Homo sapiens: one gene and its partner. The protein of the gene in region 2 interacts with the protein of the main gene of each other region in a biochemical or structural test. Each region holds a gene or a part of one and is shown on either strand. Other genes may lie near its edges.

Region 1 (7,875 bases), on a different chromosome or scaffold from region 2:
AACTAATACTTCTCAGGTCATACTCACCTGAGAAGCACAGTGCCAGGCACACTCATCTTTTTCAAGGTGGTCAACCAGAAAGCAGTCAGTTCACTGCCTCTGTACGTGAAGTATCTCTGAGGAAAAACCCATTAAGCCTGGTGTTCACTATGGCAGGCCTGCCTGGAACTCATCTTTCATGAGTCATGTGCAAACTCCTCCAACTGATGGTTCTGGATCCTTGCAGACCTTCCCCCTCCGGTGTGACTGAGGGATGGAAAACTGGAGGAAGAAGAGAGGCTGAAGGAAGAGGTTGCCAGACACTGATTCAGCTGTGAAGCTGCTAGCCCCACACAGTTGGCTCCAGAGAGGCAAACTACAAAAATGTGGCTGAAAAAGATGATGTGCATAAAAGAATCCACATGCCTCATATGTACTTTCAGCTAAAAGACACAGAGGGACCTTCCAAAGTCCAGGTACTTTCCTGTTGATAGCAAATGGTGCAGTATGGCATATAAGATAAGTAATGATAAAACGTCCCGGAGAGTTGTATTAAGACCTTGTTTACTCCTCTTTAGAGGTTAGCCTTCAAGGCAGTATAGGTTCCAAACATTTTGTAAACATCCAGTGACTTATAAAATGTGATAAAATAAAACTGAGAAATTACATGAAGGGCAGGGTTTGGAGGACTCAGCAGGGGCAGCATGAGCAGGCCCAGTCATACATTTGGTTCCCTGCCCCAGAACAGTTAGTGGAAGTGCGTGCACCACCTGCCAAAGCCAGGGTGGCCTTGGGTATTCCCACTTCAGTTCCCTCCTTTGTTGTCACAGCCATGTCAAATCAATGACACTAATCTCTGCTCCTGAACTTTAAACACATTACCTGACCTCTCAGGTGAGGACAAGCTATTGAGTTAATGTGTCAGCAGCATTGGCCCCCAAGGAAAGATCTTGGTGAGTGTCTAGATTCACATGGTACCATGTCAAGGCAGATGCTGTGCTGGGCGAACTCTTTAGTTTCTTTCCAGCTCCCCTCTGGTAGAGTAATGCAGCCTTTGGGTCCAGTGAAGAGACTAACAGAAAAGCCAGTCATCTATTGCATGTAATTGTGTTGGCCTAAGGAGGGCCTGGTCTACACTGCATTTTCTGACTCCTGGGCTGCACCAGCATTGTCTAAGGCTAAGGCATTGTCTGCCTGGCTGCCCGAGTCTGTAGTGACCGGCCCACAACATGGCAGACCACACACAGAGTGACACAGATGGTGCCCCTGTGTCCAGGCTTGAAGCAGATGAGATGCCAACCTGTTTGCCCTTTGAGTGACCTCCACGGTGGGGCCAGGACCCATGAATATCTCTTTGGAGTTCTACCCTGAGAGCTGAGGAATATTTTCTCACTTCATATGGATCCTACCTGGAAGCCTTTGCTATCGTCACTGGCTCACAGTCTTGCTTACTCCCCTGTCCTGAGAGTTTAAGACAATCTGCTAAGCAGGTATATTCGAAAAGGAGTTATTAAAATAAATGGCCGGACAGGTATATTTGAAAAGACGTGCAGTCTTGTCTTAGAGGTATACATTTGTGCATTAGACTCATATTCCTGACATTCAGGAAAGGTGACATTATTTTACACACACTTATTGTCACAAATACTGAACTAACAGCCCTGTTTTACCATCCAGAAGGAACATGCTGGAAATAGTCTATCTCCAAAAAATTCTGGTTTAAAAATGAATGAATTTAAACCATATCAATTCATTTAAAAATGTTAGACAATGGAAACCATGTTGCCACAACTCACTGAATTCCTAAGCTTTCTGTGAAAGAATTAAAATGAGGTTTATAGTGTCTATTTTCATGTCATTGTGGTTCCCTGCTCTTAATAAAAGTCAAATTGAGGTAGAAGTTAATGGGACAGGTGGAGCCTCCACTACCCACAGTGGAAAGTAACTCTTCTCTCCACCTGCTCTAGGATGCCAGGAATCCCACCAGTGAGAGGGTTTGCCCTCCTGTACTGTAACATAAAGGGGAAAAATATGTAAAATCCAAATTGGCTTTCATGGCTCCTGCCTTTTCAGGCTGCTAGTAGATTCCCATTAGGTGAGAAACAAAGCTCTATATTAATCCTAGCCTCCCAGAGACGGGAGGAAAAAGATTAAAGCAAAGAATAAATCCTCGAAACTTCCTCCAGGTCTCCTTTGCTCTAGAGGTTAATCATTGCAAGATAAACCATCCTGTGTATGACAGGGTGGAGGAGTGACTCATAGGAGGGAGGGGATTTTCAGGGGCATGGCACAGGAAAGAGGGAAGAGCCAGGGGACAGCTTCCCATGAAGTCTTGGTGTCCCCTGGTGCGTTATGTAAATGATATCCTGGGTTGGAAGGCGGGGGAGCAGGAACCAGGTCTACAGGGGCAATACAGCTACACATCCCTTCCAGCAGACACAGAACCCAGAAAGCGAATTAATGAGACAAAAATGCAAGCCACTCCTTCCTGTACCCAGAATCCCCAGAGCCTGGGAAGGGGATGAGGATCACACTGTCCATCATGATCAGCAGTTTGTAATCTGCCGCTGCCATGTTTTCATTGATTAGTCTTCGTCAGATCTAAGCTAATCAAATCATTCCCACTACCAAATGCTGTCCCTAAACCCTCCTAGTCACCAAAATTAGAAGGTGGATGGGAGAAATGCTTATTTATTCATTCATAGATCTGCATAAGATAATAATAACTTCTATGCGTTTGTAGCGTCCAACACTTCAGCTACTTCTCCTTGAACATCTCTTTTGATCTTCAAAACAGATAAGGGAAAAGGGGCCCGATTAGCACCCCAAGTCCAAGGAAACAAAGAGAGGAGTTTGGACAGTTACTCACAGATAGAGGAGCACCAGGCTGACAGCCAGGAGAAGCCAGGTTTCCACCGCCAAATTTGGGATGAGGTCCATCGCCACTTTCCTTCTTCAACTGTGTTCTGTGAGTCTTCCTTTTAGCTGAGTGCTGCTGTTTGCTGGGCTGTTTGCCTGGAGCTTCCCTGCCCTGCACAGCAGTCTTCAGCCAAGCTGCTGAAAGATTTATGTGCTGGAGAAGGAGGCAGGGCTATAGCTGCAGCCAATAGCAAAGAATCGCACACACCCCTTTGCTGACCTCTTTTGAGTTCATGTTCTATGAGGAATCATGAAAAGCTTAATCAGTGTTATCGGGGAGTCCAAGGGTTCTGGGTTCTTATCAGAAACTCAAGTGGAGCCATTGGCATGAAATCTATTAACCCTCCTCTCACCTGCCCCTCCATGGCTGCCTTCATTCTAGAATAATTGAAATCCATCCTCACAAGCCACACCTACACATCTTTACCCACGAAATTCCCTCTGCCTGGAGTGTACCTGTGCCCTCTAGATGACTCCTACGTATCCTTCCAAGCCCAGCCAGACAGACCCCTTCTGCTAAAATTTTTCCTTACCAACCTCCTCACACAAATGTAACCATTTCCTCCTCTGGGTGCCTCCTATCCCCCTCACACAGTCCTATTGTCCTCTTTTCTCTCTACCACCATTGTAAGTTTCTATGCCTGTTTCCCTTAGCAGAGGTGAGCTCCTCAAGGGCACAGTCTGGTATTATTTACTTTCATGACCCTGGTTCCTAGCAGGGTACTGTACACATGGTGGGTAACCAGGAATGTTGGTGGAGTTGTCTTGGGTGAGATTGCTGGGCGTCTCATCCCCTCTGACTCTGTGGTGATAGCAATAGACTAATGGTTGCTTGGGACTCAAATGCAGCCACACTGTGTCCCAACTAATAAAGTTGGTCTTGTTCTGCAAAGGAAAATAATAGAAATCATGTTCTGCCACTTAATTCCTCATAAGGTAACATAACATGAAGAGACTTACCTGTTGAGAGTTGTACTGAATCTGTCAAGGAAGATACTGTGTATCAGAAGAACACCCAACCAGTTTGTGCCTCTCATCTATTCATTCCTGTATTAAAGCATTCATGATGTATTTTAAAAGCTGTGCTCCCAGTACTTGGGTACAACACTGACTAAGGCCCAGACATTAGCTCAGTTGTTTTGATTTGTAGATCCCACAAGTATGTGAGAACTTGCAATATCTGTGTTTCTGTGCCTGGCTTATTTCACTTAACATGATGACCTCCAGTTCCATCCATATTATTACAGATAACAGGATCTCATGCTTTTTTCATGGCTGAATTGTGCTCCATTGTGTATAATTGGAGTACTTTCTTTATCCATTCATCTGTTGATGGACACTTAGGTTGCTTCCAAATCTTGGCATTTGTGAATAGTGGCTATTGTGAATATTGGAGTGATGTTATCTCTTCAATATATGATTTCCTTTCTTCCAGGTATATACCCAGCATGGGGATTTCTGGATATTGTGGTAGCTCTATTTAATGTTAATTTTAATGTTTTGAGGAACCTCCAAATTGTTCTCTATAGTGGTTGCACTAATTTACACCAACAGTGTACAAGGGTTCCCTTTTCTCCACATTCTCGCTGGCATTTGTTGTTGCCTGTCTTTTGGATAAAAACCATTTTAGCTGGGGTAAGATGATATCTCATTGTGGTTTTGATTTGCATTTCTCTAATGACCAGTGATGTTGAGCACCTTATCATATGCCTATGTGGCATTTGTATGTCTTCTTTTGAAAAATGTCTATTCAAATTTTGCCCATTTTTTGATTGGATTATTAGATTTTTCCTTACAGAGTTGTTTGAGCGCTTCATGTATTCTGGCTATTAATCTGTTGTCAGAGTGTGACTTTGAAAATATTTTCTCCCATTCTGTGGTTTGTGTCTTCACTTTGTTGATTGCTTTCTTTGTGGTACAGAAGCTTTTTAACTTGATCTGATCCATTTGTCCATTTTTGCTTTGGTTGCCTGTGCTTGTGGGGTAGTTCTTCAGAAAGTTTTGCCCAGACCAATATCCTGAAGAGTTTCCACAATGTTTTCTTGTAGCAGTTTCATCGTTTGAGGTCTCAGATTTCAGTTTTGTTTTTTGTTTTTTTGTTTTTTGTTTTTCTGACAGAGTCTCACTCTCTTGCCCAGGCTGGGGTGCATTGTCATGATCTCAGCTCACTGCCACCTCCGCCTCCTGGGTCCAAGTGATTCTGCCACCTCAGCCTTCTGTGTAGCTGGGACTACAGGCACGCACCAGCATGTCCAGCTAACTCTTGTATTTTTTGGTAGACATGTGGTTTCACCATGTTGGCCAGGCTGGTCTTGAACTCCTGACCTCAAGTGATACACCCGCCTCGGCCTCTCAAAATGCTGGGATTACAGGCATGAGCCACGGCACTCAGCCAGGTTTCAGTCTTTCGTCCACCTTGATTTGATTTTTGTGTCTGGTGAGATACAGGGTTCTAGTTTCATTATTCTGCATGTTAAAATCCAGCTTTCCCAGCACCAGAAGAGACTGTCTTTTCCCCCAGTGTATGTTCTTGACAACATTGTTGAAAATGAGTTCACCGTAGGTGTGTGGAATTGTTTCTGGGTTCTCTATTCTATTTCATTGGTCTGTGTCTGTTTTTATACAAGTACCATACTGTTTTGGTTATTATACCTCTGTAGTATAATTTGAAGTCAGGTAATATGATTCCTCCAGTTTTGTTCTTTTTGCTGAAGGTAGCTTTCGCTATTCTGGGTCTTTTGTGGTTCCATACAAATTTTAGGGTTTTTTTTTTTCTATTTCTTTGAAGAATGCCATTGGTATTTTGAGAGACTGCATTGAATCTGTGCATTGCTTTGGGTAGTATGGACATTTTTAACAATATTAATGCTTACAATATATAAACATGGAATATCCTTCTTTTTTGTGTCTTCTTCAATTTCCTTCATCAGTGTTTTACAATATTAATTGTAGACATCTTTCTCTTAAGTTAATTCCCAGGTATTTAGTTTTATTTGGGGTTATTGTAAATGGGATTACATTTTTTATTTTTGCCAGATTGTTCACTGTTGGCATGCAGAAATGCTACTGGTTTTTGTATGTTGATTTTGTATCCAGCAACATTACTGAATTTGTTTATCAGATCTAATAGTTCTTTAGTGGAGTCTTTAAGTGTTTCCATATATCATTTGGAAATCATTTGGAAATATCATTTGGAAATCATTTTCAAATATCATTTCCAAACATTACTTGGAAATCATTTGAACATCTTCTTGCTTCCTGGCACAAAATGTATCCTAGGCTTATCTTGAACATTCTTAATCCTGGCCCTGGAATCAGCCATTTCTCTAAAAAGCTCTGGTTCCTTTCAGTGGAAAATGGTATTAATAAGCCAAGATCTGGCCACTAAGTGTGCTCATTGCTATTGAAATGCCATTGTTACCTAGCCCTATCAGTGGAGAGAAGTAGGGAGTATATGTTTTTTTGTACACACACACAAACACATACATACATTTATGTCTATCTAATTATCTTGTCCTCTTGTTATCTTTTTATCACCTATCTAACCATTTATCTATCTAGAAGGGTATGAATATACATGGATACATCCATTTTAATCTAATTTCATAGGATTCCTGCTAGTTTTCTCCCTTTCTGAATCCATGACTCTTTTCTGCAAAAGTGACACACCTGGCTTCCAGTATACTTTATTTACTTATTTCATCAATCCCCTTTATGTAGTGAAACCTCACCCATCCCTTCCCACTCATGGATGCCCTCCTCACCTCATGCCCTAAATATGTTCTCCATGCCCTGTTTAGGCTCTGGCTGCTTTTTCAGGCCACCCCTCTGTGTCGACATTTTCTCTGCTTGCTTGGACTCCCACACACAGGCCGGGCTGTTTCTCCACGTGAACACCTACTTGATCCTCACCCTACTAGGTCTCTGACTTGGAACCATCATGACACTCTCTTTTCTACCTTAATGTGTGGCCACCATCTGGCTGCCACCCACCTAATGACTTTAGGATAAGTTACTCAGGAAGGGAAAGTAAAGAAAGAAGTGGGAACAGACAAGGAATGAGTGTGTTTAGCCTGTTGCCCAATCAATTGACCAATTGACTGTTTCTTATTAAGTGTTCATTGCAGTAAGACAGTTGGGAGTTGAGAATGGAATGCAAGAGGTGTAAGAAAACATGTTTCCCATCTCCCAGAAATATCAGGGGAGATGGTTTGAAAACATTAAATCAAAACTAATAATATAATAAGGGATTCAGTTGTATGTTATAAAATGTATGTGCTTCAAAAAGGCATAATTTTTTTTTTTTTTTTTTGAGATGGAATCTCACTCTGTCACCCAGGCTGGAGTGTAATGGTGCGTCTCGGCTCACTGCAACCTCTGCCTCCAGGTTCAAGTGATTCTCCTGCCTCAGCCTCCTGGGTAGCTGAGATTATAGGTGCATACCACCACACCTAGCTAATTTTTGTATTTTTAGTAGAGATGGGGTTTCACCATGTTGGTCAGGCTGGTCTCGAACTCCTGACCTCAGGTGATCCACCCACCTCGGCCTCCCAAAGTGCTGGGATTACAGGCATGAGCCACTGTGCTTGGTCAAAAAAGGCATAATTAAACTATGAATGTTCTTTCTAAGCAATGGGCAAAGTCACAGTGGATTAATTCTCACCTATGTTAATAATCACATTGGAGTTCTGACAAATGCCCCACACCAACAATGGTTACAATGATCACATATATTTACTTGTTGGTTCTCATTCATTCAGTTCTATAGATTTCTCCTTAATGTTCAGGAAAGTATCCGATGATACTTTTGTAAGAGGTTTTTATTGATTTGCTTAATATAAACTTATTATAGAATGCTCCAGATAAAACAGATGATATAAATGTCACTGTTAGAGCCATCAAAATAATTCTTATTTTCATTAATAATTTTGGATGAAATTATTGAGAAATTTTGATTCTTTTATCAGAGCTCAGGAG
Region 2 (7,022 bases):
GCCAAGGCAGACGGATCACTTGAGGTCAGAAGTTTGAGACCAGCCTGGCCAACATAGTAAAAACCTTCTACCAAAAAATACAAAAAGTAGCTGGGCGTGGTGGCAGTAGCTAATTGTAATCCCAGCTACTTGGGAGGCTGGGGCAGGAGAATCGCTTGAACCTGGGAGGCAGAGGTTGCAGTGAGCCGAGATCACGCCACTGCACTCCAGCCTGTGTGATAGAGCGAGACTGTCTCAAAAACAAACTAACAAAAATAAACAAACCAAAAAATGAATGCCCCACCAGCTGTAAAGTTGAAGAGTATGGGCCCTGTGATGATTAACACTGCCATTAACACCACAGCTTTAAGCTTAGGTTTGGAAAATCTAATCTTTACTACCTGTGCTGAAGTGGATTTAAAGGGTTAAGAAACAGAATGGCCAGACTACTTGGTGTGTGGTCCACAGGTCTAAATTCACCAAAAAAAAAAAAAAAAAAGCCTAAATTTACAGTCCTGATGCATAGAATTTCGATCTATAAATTACAGATTACAAATCAAATCAGGGACAAAGGAGGGATGAGCTATAATTTCTATTTGAATCTTTTTTTTTTTTTTGATACAGAGTCTTGCTCTGTTGCTCAGGCTGGAGTGCAGTGGCACGATCTTGGCTCACTGCAAGCTCCGCCTCCTGGGTTCACACCATTCTCCTGCCTCAGCCTCCCGAGTAGCTGGAACTACAGGCGCCCGCCACCATGCCCGGCTAATTTTTTTGTATTTTTAGTAGAGACAGGGTTTCACTGTGTTAGCCAGGATGGTCTCGATCTCCTGACCTCGTGATCCACCTGCCTCGGCCTCCCAAAGTGCTGGGATTACAGGCGTGAGCCACCGCGCCTGGCCTCTATTTGAATCTTTAAATTAGATTTGAATCTTTAGATTTTGATCTTTGACTTAATTTCTTAGAAAAATGGAAATTAATGTGTAGGCTTTAGAAATAGACTTGGTATACATATGTGTTTCATAGGGACTACAAGTATAATCCTTTCATAAGGATTACAAGTGAAACTTTCATAAGAATTACAAGTGTAACTTTTGTCTTAGTGGGGTTTGGTGGGGTTTTTCAATTTCACTTTAGAAAGAAACTGGCTTGTTAATGAAGAGTAAGGTGAAATACTGCCTGCAGGCAGGGAATATTCCAGAACACCAACGGACTGAGGCAGTTAAATTTGACAGGATGAAATACAAATGTGTGGTTTTGAGCTTGGGTCCAAAAAAGTGGCTACTACTGAAGTCAATATGGTAGAGCTGCCAAAGATGTTAATGTGCACTTGGACTATCATAAACAAATCTGGTGCCTAGAACAATTGAGTCGTGCTACACATAGATTACCAGCTTCAACTTTAAAGCTAATAAAAATGACAAAGGAAAACTGACCCATGTTTAGGGAAATGTAATCACTAGAGTTTAAGAAACAGACATGGATTGAAAGGAAGGAAATGTCTGCTTGGATGAGCCAGGGAGGTGCTGTGGGACTGGCCGCCTAAGATGCTGCCCTGGGGGAAAAGGAAATGCAATTGTTCTGTTTGTTCCTTGGGGTGGATGCAGCCAGCCAGCTAGATCACGTGGCTGTGGACAGTGTTCACAGTCGGCTACCTGAAAGTTTGAGGCTGAGTGCTCTGAACAGTCTGGCCTTCAGCAGAAGGTTGCTGAGACAGCACAGTGTCAGGCCCAGGAACCCAGAAGGTGGGGGACGCACCTTGTCCAACCTGGACCCATGAGCCCTCCCACCCACTACTGCTTTAAAAGAAAGCTACCACATACCTGGAACTAGAATCAATAGTAGTGATAAGAGTTTCCTGAAACACGAGAGGAAAAAGTAAAGTAAGTTCAAGGGAATGCTGAACTTATTTCATTGACTAAAATCCTGTTTGAAAATAAGAACACAATATTTTATGCAATGCATTCTTCAGAAGATGTCGAAAGGGAAAATTATAAACTTCTTTTCACTAAAATGCCTAACTTTGTTTTCTTCCAGAGTAAAACATTTTAATCATTATATTTACTTAAGGACATAACCTCAATAATTTAAAAACATTCAAAATTAATATGCTACATAAAATATCTTGCACACGCTAGGCATCTAAATAATGCAGAAACTGAAAACAGACATTCATGTTCACATACACACAATCCCACGTCACCTTTAGAAAAAGCAGTTTAATTCTTCAAAAGCATGAACACAATGTTCAATAAAAACATCAGTTATTTCATTCAAATCTGACAGATGTAAAAAAGTGTACCTAAATTACATTAAATATATGTGAACCAAAAAGAAAAAAGAGGACTGCCATTTTAAGTTCTACATTCTAGGCCAACTTTCCCGGGGGGCTGCTTTAATTCTGACCAGACGGAACCAGCAAGACACCAGACCAGCCTCACAGGACTGCTGTGCCCGGCGTCACACTTGTCACCAGCTGGTCACTGTCAGCCTAACAGCAAATCCCCAGATAAGGAAGCCCTGTTTTTATCCTCCAGAGCTTTCTGGGAGCAGCTCTTTTGAGTAGCACTAAAGTGAATGGACAATGGTTCTGGAAAAACGCATACTTCTCCAACAGCTGAAAAGCTAAGGTCTAGTGAAATATCAACTTTTTGGGGCTTGAAAATGGGTTAAGAAGCATTCTTTTGATGTTCCACACCAACATAAGCATTAGGGCCTCAAACAGAAGTTGCCATAAATAAGACAGCTTCAGATCTGCAGTTTCCCAAAGCAAAGATAAAAAGCATTAGCAAAACAATCAGCGGCCTGCAGTAAGGCAAGCATCACTCTGCAAAGCACGTTAGAGAAACTCCCGTGAAAAGACAGACCCCTTTCAGGGAAAAGCAAGCAAAGCAGTTATGAGACCCACCAACCTTGAAACACCGCCTTTAAGGTTCCTGACACAGTAGGGGAAAAAAGGTAAGTCATTTAAAAATAAAATTGCAAATTTATTATCTATTCCAGCAATTTTAAAATCTTAGCATCTATAAAAAGTATTCATAACTACAGCAAGAGGATTTTCCAAATTGTGTATATATGAATAAAATTAACAAAAATTACTAGAAATAATCAAAATATACAAAAATATTAGTTAGCTATTAGAGGACACAATCAGTTCTGAAACAAAAGAATCACTGAAGGTAAAATATGATTGTCAAACTAGAAAGTTAAGTTTGAAACAGCCAACGGAAGGCAAACACAAACATCCACGGCGTCGTTAAAATGAGGGCAGGCATTTCACCAACGTGCTGACAACTCTGGAACCTCCCACCTGCCCTCCTGCTGCCTTTGTGGTTACCATGGGAGAGCGCTAAGGTTAAAACACTACTCTGGCACCAGCATCATCAGCAACAGCCATGAACTCTAAAGAGGGGAACTTGAAATAATCGTATCACCTTTTGATTGTTGATTATCTTCTTGGCTCTGTAGCCCAGGATGCTTGACAGTTAAAGGAAGTTTGAATTACCACTTTGCACTTTGATGGAAAAGTAATTGGTCTTTAGTGGTCAGTGCTCTGAGGGCCTCACTTGGGTTTAGGGACGTGACTATCAAAGAATGTCAGCAATGAACAAGGAGAAAGAATATGGTTTTTATGATTGGCTCTGCCACCTGTTCACTCCATGACTTCGAGGTTCAACTTCAGTAAAAAGAGGTTAACAATTAAATCAGTGTGTCAAAGTCTGGGCATGGTGGCTCAGGCCTGTAATCCCAGCACTTTGGGAGGCCGAGATTGGCGGGTTGCTTGAGTCCAGCAGTTCGAGACCAGTCTGGGCAACATGGTGAAACCCTGTCTCTACAGAAAAATACAAAAATTAGCTGGGCACAGTGCTGTGTGCCTATGGTCCAGCTACTCGGGAGGCTGAGGTGGGAGGATTGCTTGACCCCGGGAGGTGGATGGTGCAGTGAGTCCAGATCCATGCCGCTGCATTGCAGCCTGGGCAACAGAGTGAGACCCCGTCTCAAAAAAGTAAAATAAGTATGTCATGCATAATGACTTATAAAAGTCATGTGAATCAGTGTAAATTACAGTAAGCTCCATAAATTATGAAAAGCATGCAAAGCCCAACAAGCTTTTGTGAATCAGAGTCATCTCATTTATAAGTTCATCTAACGTAAACTTTAGTGGGAAGCCTATCTCCCTTAAAATACTGACAGAGTGATGTCTAACACGGCAAGCCCAGAACCTAGAGGAGAAGCTTAAGGGACTGCAACTGACCAGCCTGAGATGGGTGCTAGATGGTTCTGGAGCACGTCTGTGAGCCGGGTGCTTAACACTTCCCAGCTGCAATGTACCTACCTCCCTTGGCAGGTCTAACATGGAGACACTGTGAGGACCAAATAACTTCTACAAGAATGCTTTCAAAACTATAACCAAGAAGGGGTATTGCTACGACTAATATTCTCTATGTAAGCAAATGTGATAGAAACATTTATGTTAGATTAAAATGCATGATTTCTAAGTCTACAAATATCTTAATTTGGTAACTTAACACTATGCTTTCCTTAGGGCAGGTTCAAGCTAATAATCTTTACTGCATTTTATTTCACTATTCAACTAGATATTTTAAGCAGGCAACATCTCAAAACTTTAGACCACAGTGTACATTCTTCAACCTGGAGATCGGCCGATGGTTATACAGACACATGACAAAAGAAATCCCTAAGGACACTCTTTACTTCCACTAAACCAAAAGCACAAGAAAGATACATCCAGAAAAATGCTCATGTATTTCCTTTCATTTCATCTGCTTATGGCCTCTCAAAAAGGCCAGCAAGTTCTTGTCCCACATTCTTCCGGTTCTGCTCTCACTGAAGCAAAGTCACAATAAAGAAGAGTTGTTTAAAAAATACTCAGAAGTTAGTTAATCTGTAAAATCTCTGAAGAGAGTAAAAACATCTACTTTAGGCTGGGTGCCGTGGCTCACACCTGTAATCTCGGCATTTTGGGAGGCTGAAGCAGGCGAATGCCTGAGGTCAGGAGTTCAAGACAAGCCTGGCCAACAATGGTGAAACCCCATCTCTACTAAAAATACAAAAATTAGCTGGGCATGGTGGCAGGCACCTGTAATCCCAGCTACTCGGGAGGCTGAGGCAGGAGAATTGCTTGAACCCAGCAGGTGGATGTTGCAGTGAGCCGAGATCACGCCATTGCACTCCAGCCTGGGTGACAAGAGCAAAATTCCGTCTCAAAAACAAACAAACAAAAATCTACTTTAAAAAGTTAGTGTGATTCTCAAACTTCAGTGAGACCTTCTACATCTAACAAGCTGATCAAGTATCAACTGCTAATGCTGGAATGAAGTAAGCCATGTCTTAACGCACAAAGGGCTGTGCCTCAATGTTGTCAGGAAAGCTTTCTTTGATACTAAAAGCTAAAGTCCCAGAATTTACCACATAAACTTGCTCTGTTCCCAAAATATTCTCAGTATCAAAGTAACTGCCACTTTAAAATAGAAAATAAGAACAATAAATAGTAATGGGCAATTAATCCAACAGAGTATAGGCTGTAATACACGTGTTCTAAAAGCAAATAAGGAAGAAAGTCTTTGTCCTTTAAACTGAAAGTAGTTATGGCAGGAGACACATGTACAATCTTACACCTACAAGTGTTTTCTGCTTGTAGTCTTTATGGTTAGCGAGACGGCTGGCCCTGCGGTCATCTAAGTTCATCTAATGAATCTTAAACCTTTGTTTTGCTATAGCTAAATGACTTATACCAAAATGATTAACATGCTGAACACATGATAAAAAAAATATATATTCTTCCCTTAAGAGACTTCAGAGAAAAAGGAAAAACTTTATGCAACACAGAATTTCAGCTGTCCAAAAAGTAGCCTCAAAAAAGATGCTAAAGTCAAATGAACTCACAGCAAGGATTCTAAGCAATTGTCACAGAGGCCATTGAAATTCTGAAGTCAACTTTTTATCTCCTGGAAGTACTCATATCATTCACATTGAACTTAAGTCTTTCTTGAATAAGGAGAGAATATAAAAAAAATTGCTTTGTACTAAATAGTATTACACAAGACTTTTATTGTACTATCAGGGATGTTGAGGTAAATGTGGCCTTTATGCTTATATTATTGGATTAACTGCTTTGATCCTTTTGTAGATTAAAGATGATGTCTTGGCAGCAACAGCTCAAAAAATCAGCTCACCAGTTCTCGACACAAGCTCAGTGGGGTCTTGCTGTTGCACTTTCTCTAATGAAACCAAGAATTTACACCAAAACGAAAAATTATACTTTCTTTTTTGTCATTTGATTTAAGCAAAACTTTCCCCTGTAGTCCTTTAATTAGACACTAGAAACTATTTTGCCTACTTGTACTTTTCAGGAACTTAGGCTGTGCTCTTCCATTCTCACCCTACATTTATCTTCAAATATAAGTGAGATGGTCAGTTCAGAGAGAAAGGCTAGTGAATCAGAACATAAAACTAGTATTGCCAGAGTTATTTTCCTTTCCCAAGGAAAAGTAAGTCAAAAGGGTATTATTTAATTTCATTAAATTCATCTGACAAGTATTTATTGAACACCTACTATGCCCAAGAGACTTAAAGATGAAGAAGACATGAGACACACCCTTAAAGATTTAAGTAATAAAACCACTATCCATTCAGATTTTAAGTTCTCTGAAAATAAGGCTTGTGTCAAATCTTTTAGATCAGAAGCACGTGCTACCATAAAAAGTAGCTCTTCAAATGGTATATATTGATAATTATGATGAAAAAAGTAGTTTACTGACAGCCTTAAAAAAATTACACACACGCCATCCTAACAAATCATACTGACAGGTTTCCGTAAATAAAAAATACTTGCTGAGCCAGTAGGTTACATATTCATTTATCTAGAAAGACCTGTGCTGGCATCAGTCAGGTAAATAAAAACCCTCTGCCTTCAGTTTGACAAGTATTAAATACAACGAGAACATCCAGAGATACTTGAGATGGTCACACTTACCGGAGGCTTGTTTAACTTTGGTCTGTCATCCTGCAATGAAAAGATAAGG

The links. Proteins that work in one complex are often made in the same cells at the same time.
Region 1: the proteins of CYB5A (region 2) and CYP3A5 interact in a biophysical measurement, tested with the Homo sapiens proteins (one study listed by IntAct).

What each region holds. Positions count from the first base shown.
Region 1 is NC_000007.14:99,676,978-99,684,852, forward strand, and holds the start of CYP3A5 (cytochrome P450 3A5), read right to left. Parts: upstream 3,020-7,875; 5' UTR 2,920-3,019; coding exon 2,849-2,919; intron 1-2,848. UniProt on the Homo sapiens protein: A cytochrome P450 monooxygenase involved in the metabolism of steroid hormones and vitamins.
Region 2 is NC_000018.10:74,253,942-74,260,963, forward strand, and holds part of CYB5A (cytochrome b5), read right to left. Parts: intron 7,004-7,022; coding exon 6,974-7,003; intron 2,913-6,973; coding exon of another isoform or gene 2,904-2,912; exon of another isoform or gene 1,998-2,903; intron 1,835-1,997; coding exon 1,800-1,834; intron 1-1,799.